Homo sapiens: one gene and its partners. The protein of the gene in region 3 purifies or fractionates together with the protein of the main gene of each other region. This does not show direct contact. Each region holds a gene or a part of one and is shown on either strand. Other genes may lie near its edges.

Region 1 (4,053 bases), on a different chromosome or scaffold from region 3:
AGAAGGGGAATGATTGCTGCCATTTTGCAAACAGTCTATCATGTGCAAAACAAGGCCAAGAACAAACTTTCAAGGTGATACTTCATTCTTAGATTTCCAAGATGCTAGAGCCAGAAGTCCTAGTTGAGTCCCTGTTTCTCCACGTTTCAGGCCTCAGTTTCCCCATCTAATAAATGAGGATAACATCCATTTCACAGGGTTGATCCAGGATCAACAGGGGCTAAAAATTATAAATAAATGTTGGTAATGATGCTTCCACAACTGTACAATGGGTTCACAACTTCTCAACCTACTTGCTCATCTCCACACACAGCGTTTCTGCGAGTACAGAGGGCTCACTATTGATAGTGGTCCAAGAGGGGATTTTAGGTGTCACAGGAACAGCACCTTGAATACGATTGACTTATGTGTGTGATTCACCTTCCCTCTGTCATTCTCTTTCAGTCTTTCCTCTTAGGAGAAGTCTCAGCTTAATGCCAATGCCTTCCCCTTTTGCTAATTATTTTATTTTTTGTAAAGAGGGGGTGTGTCACTTTGTGGCCGAGGCTGCTCTTGAACTCCTGTCCTCAAGGGATCCTCCTGCCTCAGCCTCCCAAGGTGCTGGGATTACAGGCATGAGCCATGGAATGCCACCAGTGCCAATTTGTCTTTGACACCTCTCTCAACCCATGCTAACCATCTCCCTCAGAGTTTTTGGCCCTATTTAGAATTGAATAATGCTTTATTTTCAATTTTTACATTTGCTTTCTATTAATGACAAATGATACGTTAAAAAATATATAAGCAAGCACTAATAGTTTAAAAAACAATGCTAAGTATATAATAAAACGTGGTTCATTCATTCTTGCGTTCAACAAATATTCGTCCAATAAATATATGTAGAGCATCTCCTATGGGCCAGGATCTTGCCAAAGGCACATCTGCGAACCAAGGAAACCCCTGCCCTCGGGGAGCTTGCATTCTAGGCGTGGGAGTCGTGATGGTGGTCGGAGAAGGACTGGATTTGGGGATTTGCTTCTTGCGGGGGACACAGGCCTGCCCGTGGGGCCCGCCTCCCGCGCGGAGAGCGCTGAGGGGTCCGGAGTGACCTGTAGGCTGAGACCCTGGCTTCCCCTTGCCTAGAGGCCGGGCAGGAGGCGCGGAGCCCGAGGTCGCGGGGCTGAGGGCGCGGGGCGGGCCCGGCGGGGCTCGGCTGCGGCCCGGGCTGTGTCTGCGGCCCCGGCGGCCGCGCCCCTCCTCCCTTTCCCTCCGGCGGAGGCTGACGTGGAGTCAACAGCGCTGGCGGCCGCGAGAGGCGGCGGCGCAGCGGCTCGGAGGCGCCGGGCCCTCTCGGGGCCGCGCGGGGCCCGGGCGGCGGCGGCGACGCGACGTCGCGAGGAGGAGGAGGCGGCGGGGGTCCAGGAGGCCGGCCAGCGCATGGAGGAGGAGGCCATGAACGGCGACCGGACTGAGAGCGACTGGCAGGGGCTGGTGAGCGAGGTGAGGCCGCGGCGCCGGCCAGGCGGGATGGGCCGGGCCGAGCGGCCGCCAGCCCCGGGCCCGCGCCCCCAGAGAGGCCGAGCTGGGAGGGACGAGAGGGGGGCGCGCACTCCAAGTGGCCGCGGCTGCCGCACCCGCGCGACCCCGCCAGGTGCGCCGCTCCTCCTGCACTTTCGGGTCTGCGCGGGCGCCACTTTCTTCCGCGCCATCTGGTGTCAGCCTTTGGGGAGGGGCCTTCCCCCCAAGGCAGGGGTTGGCCCTGGATTGGAGGCTGAAGCCCTGGGATCCGGGAGCAGAAGGTGCCAAGCCCCACCTGCCTGCCCGCTCGCCACTGTTGTGGAGCCAAACAATTGGACGCCTGGGACTGAAACGGGAAGGTGGTGCCATGGGGGAGAATCCGAGCCCTGGGGTGGAACCTGGGCCAGGTGGAATTACCTGCGGCGGTGGTTCGAGTTGGGGGAGTTCGGGGGTCCGCTGCAGCCGTTCACTCATTCACTTGCTCAATTCAATCAACACGTGTTTACTGCAGGCCTACCATGTGTAAGGTGGGGAGGGGCATTTATCGAAAAAGTGAAACACAGGTGCAGAAGTGATTCGATTTGTGGAAGCACAGAACACCGTGTCCCCCTGCCCTGCGACTCTTTTGTCATAAACATACCCTGGGGGTCCACTTTCAGGATCCTATGCTGTTTGCTCTTCAGTTCCCCCTAAGAGTTTGCCGGCCTGCCGGGAGAAGCTGCCGGCCTCTCCAGGTGAGAGGGAATGCGGATTTCTCCCTCTCACCTGGAGGCAACCAGGTAAGTTGCCCTGGTTTGCCACCATTTGTGGGGGCAATTCCTGGTGTTACTTACCCATGCCGGGGAATTTCTCCCTTCTGAGAACCAAGCTCCAGCCAAGGCCAACTTGGGGCTTCCTTTTCTTTAATCCTGTGCACACAATGCAGAGTGTATCGGTTTGCTCTTTTCCTTTCCTTGTGGGTTATGGGAAGGGAAACCCTCTACTCCCTCACTCCTTTCATCGTTTTCTGGGTCTCCAGGTCAGTCTGATAATAGTGCTTCATGCCCAGTGTGTGCAGAGCGTTGTGTTTCTGAAGAGGAATGACATGCGGTAGCTCCTGCCCTAGTTTAGTTTGCTCAGCATTGGTCTAGTAGTTGAAAGCTCTCCTAACTGTCTGGTGTTATGATCCATTGTATTGCAGCCTGGCTCCATCTTCTCAAACTGTCAGGCTTTATGTTAAGGGGCAGATCCTCTGGGGACCTTGTTTCTGGTCCCATCAAGAATCATACTTAGTAGTCAAGGAGGCTGGAGGTAGTTCTCCTTAGAAGTCCAGTGTTAGGCCCTTAAATAGCAGCAGAATCTTCACTACTCCAACAATTGCATATCAGGTGCCTGTTAGGAGTCAGTACATTGTGAGGTGCTTGGGATTCAGTGGTGAATAAGACAAAGAACTCCCCTACCCTCAAAGAACTCCTGGGGGTTTCATGATATAGTCTGGGAGGAAGGTCATACCGTAGACAGTGAGAGTGAACTAAAGGATGGAAAGGCTTCAAGTGCTAAATGGCATGGGGTGCCCCTCAGTTGGCTGGGCTTAACCTTCACCTTGCCCTGACCACATTATTGTAACAATAGGCTTCCTCACTAGGCCGTGTGCTTTGTTTGGTTCTTTATTCCAGGGCCTATACACAGAGCTCTGTATGCAGCAGGTGCTCGAAAAATGCTTGTTGAATAAGTCAGTGAATCCTGAAGTAGGTCCTTCAGGAGTTTTCCTGCCCATCCCAGCAGAGTTTCTCCAGAGTAATACCTCCTTAACTTCACAAACATGAGGTGGGCACGTAGCCAGGGGCCATGGGGGAGGTGAAAATGGGTCTAACTTACTTCCCACCTTAATAATAACTAATGACTATTTTTTGAGTGCATCCTTCATATTAAGCATTTTACATGGCCTCATATTCACAATGACATAAGGTAGGAATTCTTTCTTATTTTACAGATAAGGAAACAGTGGCTCAGACAGGCTAAGGAACTTGCACAGAGCCTCACATCTGGTAAGTGGAAGAGGCAGGATTTGAATCCTGGTCTGTCTGACTCATTGCTTGAGCCTTGCTTGTCTGAGCCTTGCTAGGCCACACTTGCTATTTTAATCATTGCTCATCTGTCTGTATCTTCTGCTAGATGGCAGGCTTCCCAAGGAAGGAGACCATGTCTGATTCAACTTTGAGTCCGCAGCAAATGGCTTGGTGTTTCTTAGAGTATGGCCTACAGATCACCTGCATCAGAGTCATTTTGGGTGCCTGTGAAAAATTCAAGTTTATGGGTCTCTCCCAAATTTACTGTAGTGAGTTGAATTATGTATCCTGCTCCCCCCACCTCCCCACCATAGCTGCATCCGAGACCTAACCCCAGTAGCTGCAAATGTGACTTTATTTGGAAATAGGGCCTTTGCAGATATGATCAAGTTAAGGATCTTTAGATGAGATCACCCTGGATTTAGGGTAGGTCCTAAATCTAATGACTGATACCTTAGAAGAGAAAGGACAGAGATTTAAGCCACAGACACACAAGGGAGCAGGCTAT
Region 2 (3,500 bases), on a different chromosome or scaffold from region 3:
GGGGCTGTGCTTTGGGGAAGGAGCTACAGAGGGCAGGGCCTGGCAGCAGCACCAGACCATTCCTGGGCAGGAGTCAGCTAAAGCTTCATGCCAGGATGGTCAGGAGATTCCAGGCAGGGAGTTGTGGGTCAGGGAGAGCAGGTGCTAGGGGCCACAGCCCTGTAGAGGGCGGGTGCAGCAGGGTAGGAGAGCTGATGGCTCCAGGTGGCTGGAGTCAGGAGCATGACCGGCACTGGGGCAGGCAGCGTGGCTGTCTCCTGAGGCTGCTGAGTGAGCCCCCATGGGGGTAGCGGCAGCCAGCGAGGAAGCTGGCCTGTCATCCAGGTGAGCTGGGCTTTGACTGGAGTGTCCAGCTATGGAAAGGGGGCTGACACCTGTGCTTCCTCTCCAGGCCTCTCAGGAACCTGGAGCTCCTCGGCCAACAGCATCCTCCACATCGACCCCAAGACGGGTGTGGCTGTGGCCCGGGCCGTGGGATCCGTGACGGTTTACTATGAGGTCGCTGGGCACCTGAGGACCTACAAGGAGGTGGGCTCTAAGCAGCCGGAGGCACATGTGGCTCAGTGGCCTGTGAGGCGGGCCTGACCTTCTGGGAGGATTATGAAGACTTTTCCTTTTAGGGAAAAGCCGTCTGAGGGGTTGGGTCTGGGAGTCATGAGTCTGGGACTGGCCACTTGCTGACTCTGACATGGGGACAAGCTCCCTTTTTTTTCCAGGCTTCAGTCTCCCCATGTTCAAGAGGGTGTGATGAGGACAGGCAGCCTTGTAGGGTGGATTCCAGCTCCCATGGGCTTGGGTCTGGCAACCCCGGAGTGGGCACTTCCTGGGAGCCGGTGCTTCCCTGTCACCTGCAAGGCTAAGACTCCCTGTGCAAGTCACCCTTTGAGTCTGGAGGCGACAAAACCTGCTGTCTCTTCCATTCATCTCCAGTTGAGAATGAATCAGTGGGGCAAGTCTGGCTGAGATCCAAATGCATCTCATTTTTAGAGGCAGCATGTGCTTTATGGAACCTAGCAGTTTAACCTAATTGTTTGCATATTTAGTGCTGCGGCTCTGCAGTTTGGGCGAGCCAGTTGCAGACAGAGGCATCCTGTGACAATACAGCTGTGCTCTCCTGGAAAGAGCCTCTGGTCAGGGGATGGGGTGGCATGGACAAAGGTGTGTAGGGTTCAAGGGCAGAGCCTCGGGGGCTGGAACAGAGGGTGTGGGAGAAGCATGGTCTGGCTTTGTGATCAGATCAGAAAATGCACCAGATTCCAGGCAGTTTGGTGCAGGTTGAGGGTGGGGCATCTACAGCTAGACGGTCTAGGTCAAATCCCAGCTTGGCCACTGCGAGGCTATGACTGAGCAATCATTGAGTCTCGCTATGTCCCGATTTTCTTGCCTGTATAATGGGGATGATAGCGTTGTGAGGATTTAGTGAGTTAGCACGTCAGAAGCCCCTAGGGTGGTGCTCAGCTCATAGCCAGTGCTCAGCAGAAATTAGCTGCTGCTGCTGCTGCTGTTCCAGGGTGAAGGGGTAGAAGCTTATGCCACACTCAGTGGAGTTTTTTAAACAGTGCTATAGACCAAGGCTGTGTTTGCAGAGGTTACCTGGCACCTGGAGGAGCTCGAGAGAGCAGTCGCTACAGGGTAACTGGCCAGAGACTGAGGCCAGGCCCTCAGCTGGGATCACTGGGTGTGGCAGAATCTAAAGGCAGGTTTGGGAGAGACGGGAGGGAGGGAGGCACATCAGAGCTCCATGAGCATCCAGAAGTGAGGCTGGAGGGGAGGAAGGGCTTGGGATGACCAGGCTGCTACTGGTCCTTTGCTGAGAGGGGCACACAGAGGTAGGTAGGCCTGCAGGGAGGTGAGGAGCCTGGGCCGGGGAGCTAGAGATGTCACAGCTCTCCCAGGTGAGGCAGGAGGCACACCTGGGTGGGTGCGGCAGGAGCACTGTGAGGAAGGCTGGACAGGGTGGGGGCCTCAGCCCAGAAGTGGCCTCTGAAGCCCTGGGAGTGGGTGGGAGTGCACGGGCACTCCAGGAGTGCAGGCAGGAGAGGGGCCAGGAAGCCTTGGGCACTCTCTGAGGGTGGACAGGGAGGAAGGGGAGAGGAGGGCCAGCGTTGGGGGGTCCCAGGCTAGAGAGTGGGACACAGCCTCTGTCAGTCCCTGGAGGTGGATGGTGGTAAGCCCTGAGCGGAGGCACCGTGAGTTTGACAGTGATGCCTGGTCACCTACAGCTCTGCATGGGCCACATCCCTGGGAGCTGCAGGGGCTTCAATCGCATCCCTGCTCTGAAGTTCACCTACTGGTAGAAATCAGATCTCCTGGAGGCAGGGAGCGCTGGTGCCTGCTGAGAGAGGGAGGGGGGCCTTCAGCTGCAGGAAGTGGCCTTGGGCCTGAAGGGTGGATGAGGCTGGGCTCTGCAGAGAAGATGGGAGGGTGTCCTAGCCAAGGGAGTGCAGGGAGGTCTCCAGCCTGGGGCTGTTTGGGTGTGGCCAGGTACAGGATGGGCACAGGGGGAACAGCTGGGAAAATCTGGGCAGACTGGATTCTGGGTGGGGTGTGGTGCTGTACTACAGAGAAGTGATCATGGCTGTCCGAACAGCCAAAATCCTCAGCCCACCCAGATCGATTAATGAATTCAGGCCCGCTGCTCAGCGTCCAGTCAGCTGCTGGGGGAAGCAGCTTGTTCAATGGGAGAACTGGGCTGTGAAGTCTGACCAGACTGGGCTCAAACCCCCTCTCTGCCACATTCTAGCAAGGCGTTTAGGCTTTGAGCCTCAGTGTTGCCACCTGTGAAACGGGTGACACTATGTCACAGACTGCAGGGTGAGGTTGTGGAAACGCCCAGCATGGACCGGGACACAGGCGGCGCTCCATGAAGCTTCCTTGGCTCCCTCTCTAGGTGGTGGTCAGCGTCCCTCAGAGGATCATGGCCCGTCACCTCCACCCCATCCAGACCAGCTTCCAGGAGGCTACAGCCTCCAAAGTGATTGTTGCCGTGGGAGACAGAAGCTCTAACCTGAGAGGTACTTAATGAGGGGCTTGGGCTGTCTTCAGAGTACCTGGGAGCGGGGAGGTGGCTTCCTGTGTCCTCTGGATGGAGTTTATCTGCTTCTCCTATTCACACTCACACCAACTCCAGAGAGGGCATTTAGCCCCCACTCATCCACTCCTTCCAGCGTTTCTGAAATTGGAGTCCTCCAAAAGCTGAGCCAGTGAAAGGAATCTTCATAATGGAGCCCAGCTCCCAGAAGGTGCCTGTTCTGCACTGGAAATGTGACTTCAGCCCGAGGGCACCCTAGCAAAGAAAGCCACAATTTCCCACCGTGAATCCCAGAAACTAATGAATTAGCAGGACTCGTCACTGGTTTTAATTTTTGTAATGACCTCTCCCAGGTCATGCATAGAATGTTGAACCCCATCCCCTGCCCATGACAGCCCTGAACAGCAGCTGCCAGAAATAAGTAAGTCAACAGGGCTGTTTTCTTAAACCACCTCACTGGCAGAGTGAA
Region 3 (3,500 bases):
CATAGGCTCAGCAACATCGCTATGGATGCACACAGGGCACAAATGGCCTGGAGTGGAGACAGCCTCTGTGAAGGTAGCAATAGGGCTGGGGTTCAAAATAGCCCCAAATTACTTCATGTCCAAGAGCACGGACTTGAGTGCCTATGGAGCCTACGGCATCCTCTCCTCCCATAGCTCCTCCATCGGAAGGGCTGCAGGTAGTGCCCATTCAGAAGTCGGCAGTTGACAGGTCTGTGCCAGGCTGCTGGATGAGGTCACTTATTGCAAAAAACCTTATTATCTTTCATTGGCAAGCACCTGGCTCCCAATCTTAAAAGGAGGATTTGTGAGGCAGGCATTCAGACACTGCACAGATTGGGCAGAAAAAGTCCGGATGGAAAGAATAAGCAGGACACTGAGATAGGAAAGAGAAAAGGAGGAACAGTGAACCAGTGCCCAATCACAGTCCTGTTTCTAAGACACTCTAGTATGGGCCTTTCCCTGTTAAAGATAAATTACTTATAGAACATGTCATGCCCCTGATCCAGAGTGGAGCTTTAATACTCTTTGCCTGCAGTTAGAAATAATAAGATTTCTCCGAAGTCTCTGGGTCTAAATCCCCACCAGCGTGATTAAACCTTTACATCCTTCTAAAATAGAGGCACTCGAGTGCTGATGGGGCATACGATGTGAGAGACTTTTAGACCAACCTTCAATAAACACAGGCTCTTGGTTGTTGGTGTTTTTTTTTTTTTTTCTTTCTTTTTTTTCTGAGAGCTTTTAAAATGGAAGCTGGTTCTTTGCCCATTGAGGGGAAAGGCCCACTCTCTTCTCAGAGGATCTGGCGGCATACGACCAGAGAAAGAGCAAGTCTGCTAGGAAGACTGATTAGTGCTCATGCAGGTCCATACACTGTTCTCAGACGCAAGTACGTGACAGCCATCCGGAGAGAGCACACAGGATGGCACTTTCAACACCACAATCCAGAAAGCATGGTTACGCAGCCAAGTGCCTGACAGCTCAATTTAGGCGCATTCTTCCATCCATTTTGGGGATCTGATGACAGCACATTTTAAATTATAGTTTAGAATGGGGAACAGATAAACACACAGATAAAAGAAATCCACAGAGCATCTCAAAATATAACTCTAGCCAAGAGCTTCAAACACAAGATATATCTGGGGACTGCAACACCCTATGAATTGAAAGAATTAAACATCTGGCTAGGCACCATGGCTCACGCCTGTAATCCCAGCGCTTTGGGATGCCGAGGTAGGCAGATCACTTGAGGTCAGAAGTTCGAGACCATCGTGGCCAACATGGTGAAACCTGTCTCTACTAAAAATACAAAAATTAGCTGGGTGTGGTGGCGGGTGCCTGTAGTGCCAGCTACTCGGGAGGCTGAGGCAGGAGAATCGCTTGAACCTGGGAGGCAGAGGTTGCAGTGAGCCGAGATCACGCCATTGCACTCCAGCCTGGGTGACAGAGCAAGATTCCGTCTCAAAAAAAAAAAAAAAAAAAAAAAAAAAAAAAAAAAAAAAAAAAAAAAAAAAAAATCAGCACCTCAACACCCACCCTCACCAAGGTAAATTAAAAGGAAAAAAGCTGCCCAAATGTATAACATGGTGAGAAATTCAGCAGAAATAAAACACAGGGTCACTCATCTTCAGGAGCTCAGGGAGGGGGTGCTGGCCATCGGGGCAGCAGGCTGAGAAGGAGGAACCATTGTCTCTCTCTCTTGCGCTGACCTTGAATGCAGTCCAGTGGCAACCCGTGTCTGCATCTATTTTCTCATCGGCACCGCAGGCCCAGTGCAGAGGAAACAGATTTGGGTTTCAGCTCTTTCTCCTTCCCCTGTCCACACTTTGATGGAGGGCCCCAGGACAAGCAAAACAGCCAAAAGACAGGCAGAGCAGAGGAGCAGCAAGAGGGCTGGAGGCATTATAATTCACAGGGGACACTCAGGCACACGACTCTAATGAGAAAACCCTGTTAGCGACAATTTATACTTGGTCTTTACCACAGCAGGGCTGAGGGAGCCGCTTGCACGAGAAGCATACCTCACAGCACCACCGCACACGTAACATTAGATTTTATGGCTTCACACACACACAAAGACAGAGTACCTGGTATATTCTGCATGGATTTCAATGAAAGAGGGTACGCCAGAAGGGACAAATGGTTAAGACTTTCCTTGGAAATGGAACTTGGAGAGTTGTTTCTGAAACTAGGAAGGAAAAAATGTAGGAAGATGGGTGAAGTGAAAGAAACATGCTTAGCTTCCCTGGTTACACAGGGGGAAGCGAGAGGTGTCATAATCTCACCAAGGGGTCGCTAGTTGCCCATGTGGAGCCTGGCCACACACTATTTTCATCACAGAGTCCACTAGCAGGTCTGTGGGGCCTTAATTCATCATGCAAACACTCATGGGATAAATGCTGCCTCAGGGAGTGGGACCCCCGCAGTAAAGCTGCACCTTGGCTCACCTGCTTCCCTTGGCCTAGGAATTCTTCTTGGTCATCAAAAGCCGGCTCGATAGTCCCAACCCTTTTGCAGCTCCCTGATAACTCCAGATGAGTTAAGGTTTCTACAGAGACTCTGGAAGTCAGTTAGGTGCTATGCAAATGGAGGGTGTTACTGAGCAGAACTAGTAGTTGGTGCTCCATCCTCTGCTCCCAAACACCCTGCGAGAAGCTCCACGAGGGCACTGATTTTATTTGGCCTTGAGTGCTCCCCTGTGTTCCTAAAGGCTGAGATTGTCCCCTGTTCACTTGTTTCTCCTACAGATCATGGCACAGTGTCAGACACATAGCAGCCATCAGAAATTGCACTGAAATAGAAATGATATGAAATGACATGCATACTGTTAGGTGTGGGGTATGTCACACTGGCCTTTTAGGTACCCAGTGCACATCCTGAAAGAAACATGGGTACAACTTTGCCCTGTAGACAATGCAGAGTAAGGCTACTTAGTTTTATGAATCCAGTTCAGGAATTCTACTAATTCCTGGATAAACTCCCTTTCGAAAAAGGGTCTAGGACACAAAACGTCCTTCACTTTCTTATCTTTTCTTTTCTTTTTGAGATGGAGTCTTGCTCTGTCACCCAAGCTGGAATGCAGTGGAGTGCAGCTCAGTACAACCTCTGCCTCCCGGGTTCAAGCGATTCTCCTGCCTCAGCCTCCAGAGTAGCTGGGACTACAGGCACATGCCACCATGTCCGGCTAATTTTTTGTACTTTTTAGTAGAGACGGGGTTTCGCCATGTTGGCCAGGCTGGTCTCAAACTCCTGACCTCAGGTGATCCGCCTGCCTTGGCCTCCCAAAGTGCTGGGATTACAGACGTGAACCACTGCGCCCAGCCAGGTCCTTCACTTTCTAAACAGAAGCCTGGTTCTTGCTATAGGATTGGGCAATGTGTCTGTTATTACAGAGGAAGAAGTGAGCACTTCTTTTCAGTTTCAGGCAGATCCCAGCTGGTCTGGAGGCTCCCAGCACTTCCGCTGCCTCCAGCCCTTGCCTT

The links. The genes of interacting proteins can lie anywhere in the genome.
Region 1: the proteins of MKNK1 (region 3) and CCDC149 purify together in Homo sapiens (affinity purification with mass spectrometry; one large-scale study listed by BioGRID and IntAct). This does not show direct contact.
Region 2: the proteins of MKNK1 (region 3) and NUP210 purify together in Homo sapiens (affinity purification with mass spectrometry; one large-scale study listed by BioGRID and IntAct). This does not show direct contact.

Annotation. Positions count from the first base shown.
Region 1 is NC_000004.12:24,910,243-24,914,295, reverse strand, and holds the start of CCDC149 (coiled-coil domain-containing protein 149), read left to right. Parts: upstream 1-1,253; 5' UTR 1,254-1,431; coding exon 1,432-1,479; intron 1,480-3,469; exon of another isoform or gene 3,470-3,524; intron 3,525-4,053.
Region 2 is NC_000003.12:13,322,823-13,326,322, reverse strand, and holds part of NUP210 (nuclear pore membrane glycoprotein 210 precursor), read left to right. Parts: intron 1-391; coding exon 392-528; intron 529-2,890; coding exon 2,891-3,014; intron 3,015-3,500. UniProt on the Homo sapiens protein: Nucleoporin essential for nuclear pore assembly and fusion, nuclear pore spacing, as well as structural integrity.
Region 3 is NC_000001.11:46,583,769-46,587,268, forward strand, and holds part of MKNK1 (MAP kinase-interacting serine/threonine-protein kinase 1), read right to left. Parts: exon of another isoform or gene 2,466-3,500; intron 2,207-2,465; exon of another isoform or gene 2,122-2,206; coding exon of another isoform or gene 2,106-2,121; exon of another isoform or gene 1,728-2,105; intron 1,280-1,727; exon of another isoform or gene 891-1,279; intron 885-890; exon of another isoform or gene 831-884; coding exon of another isoform or gene 690-830; intron 1-689. UniProt on the Homo sapiens protein: May play a role in the response to environmental stress and cytokines. Appears to regulate translation by phosphorylating EIF4E, thus increasing the affinity of this protein for the 7-methylguanosine-containing mRNA cap.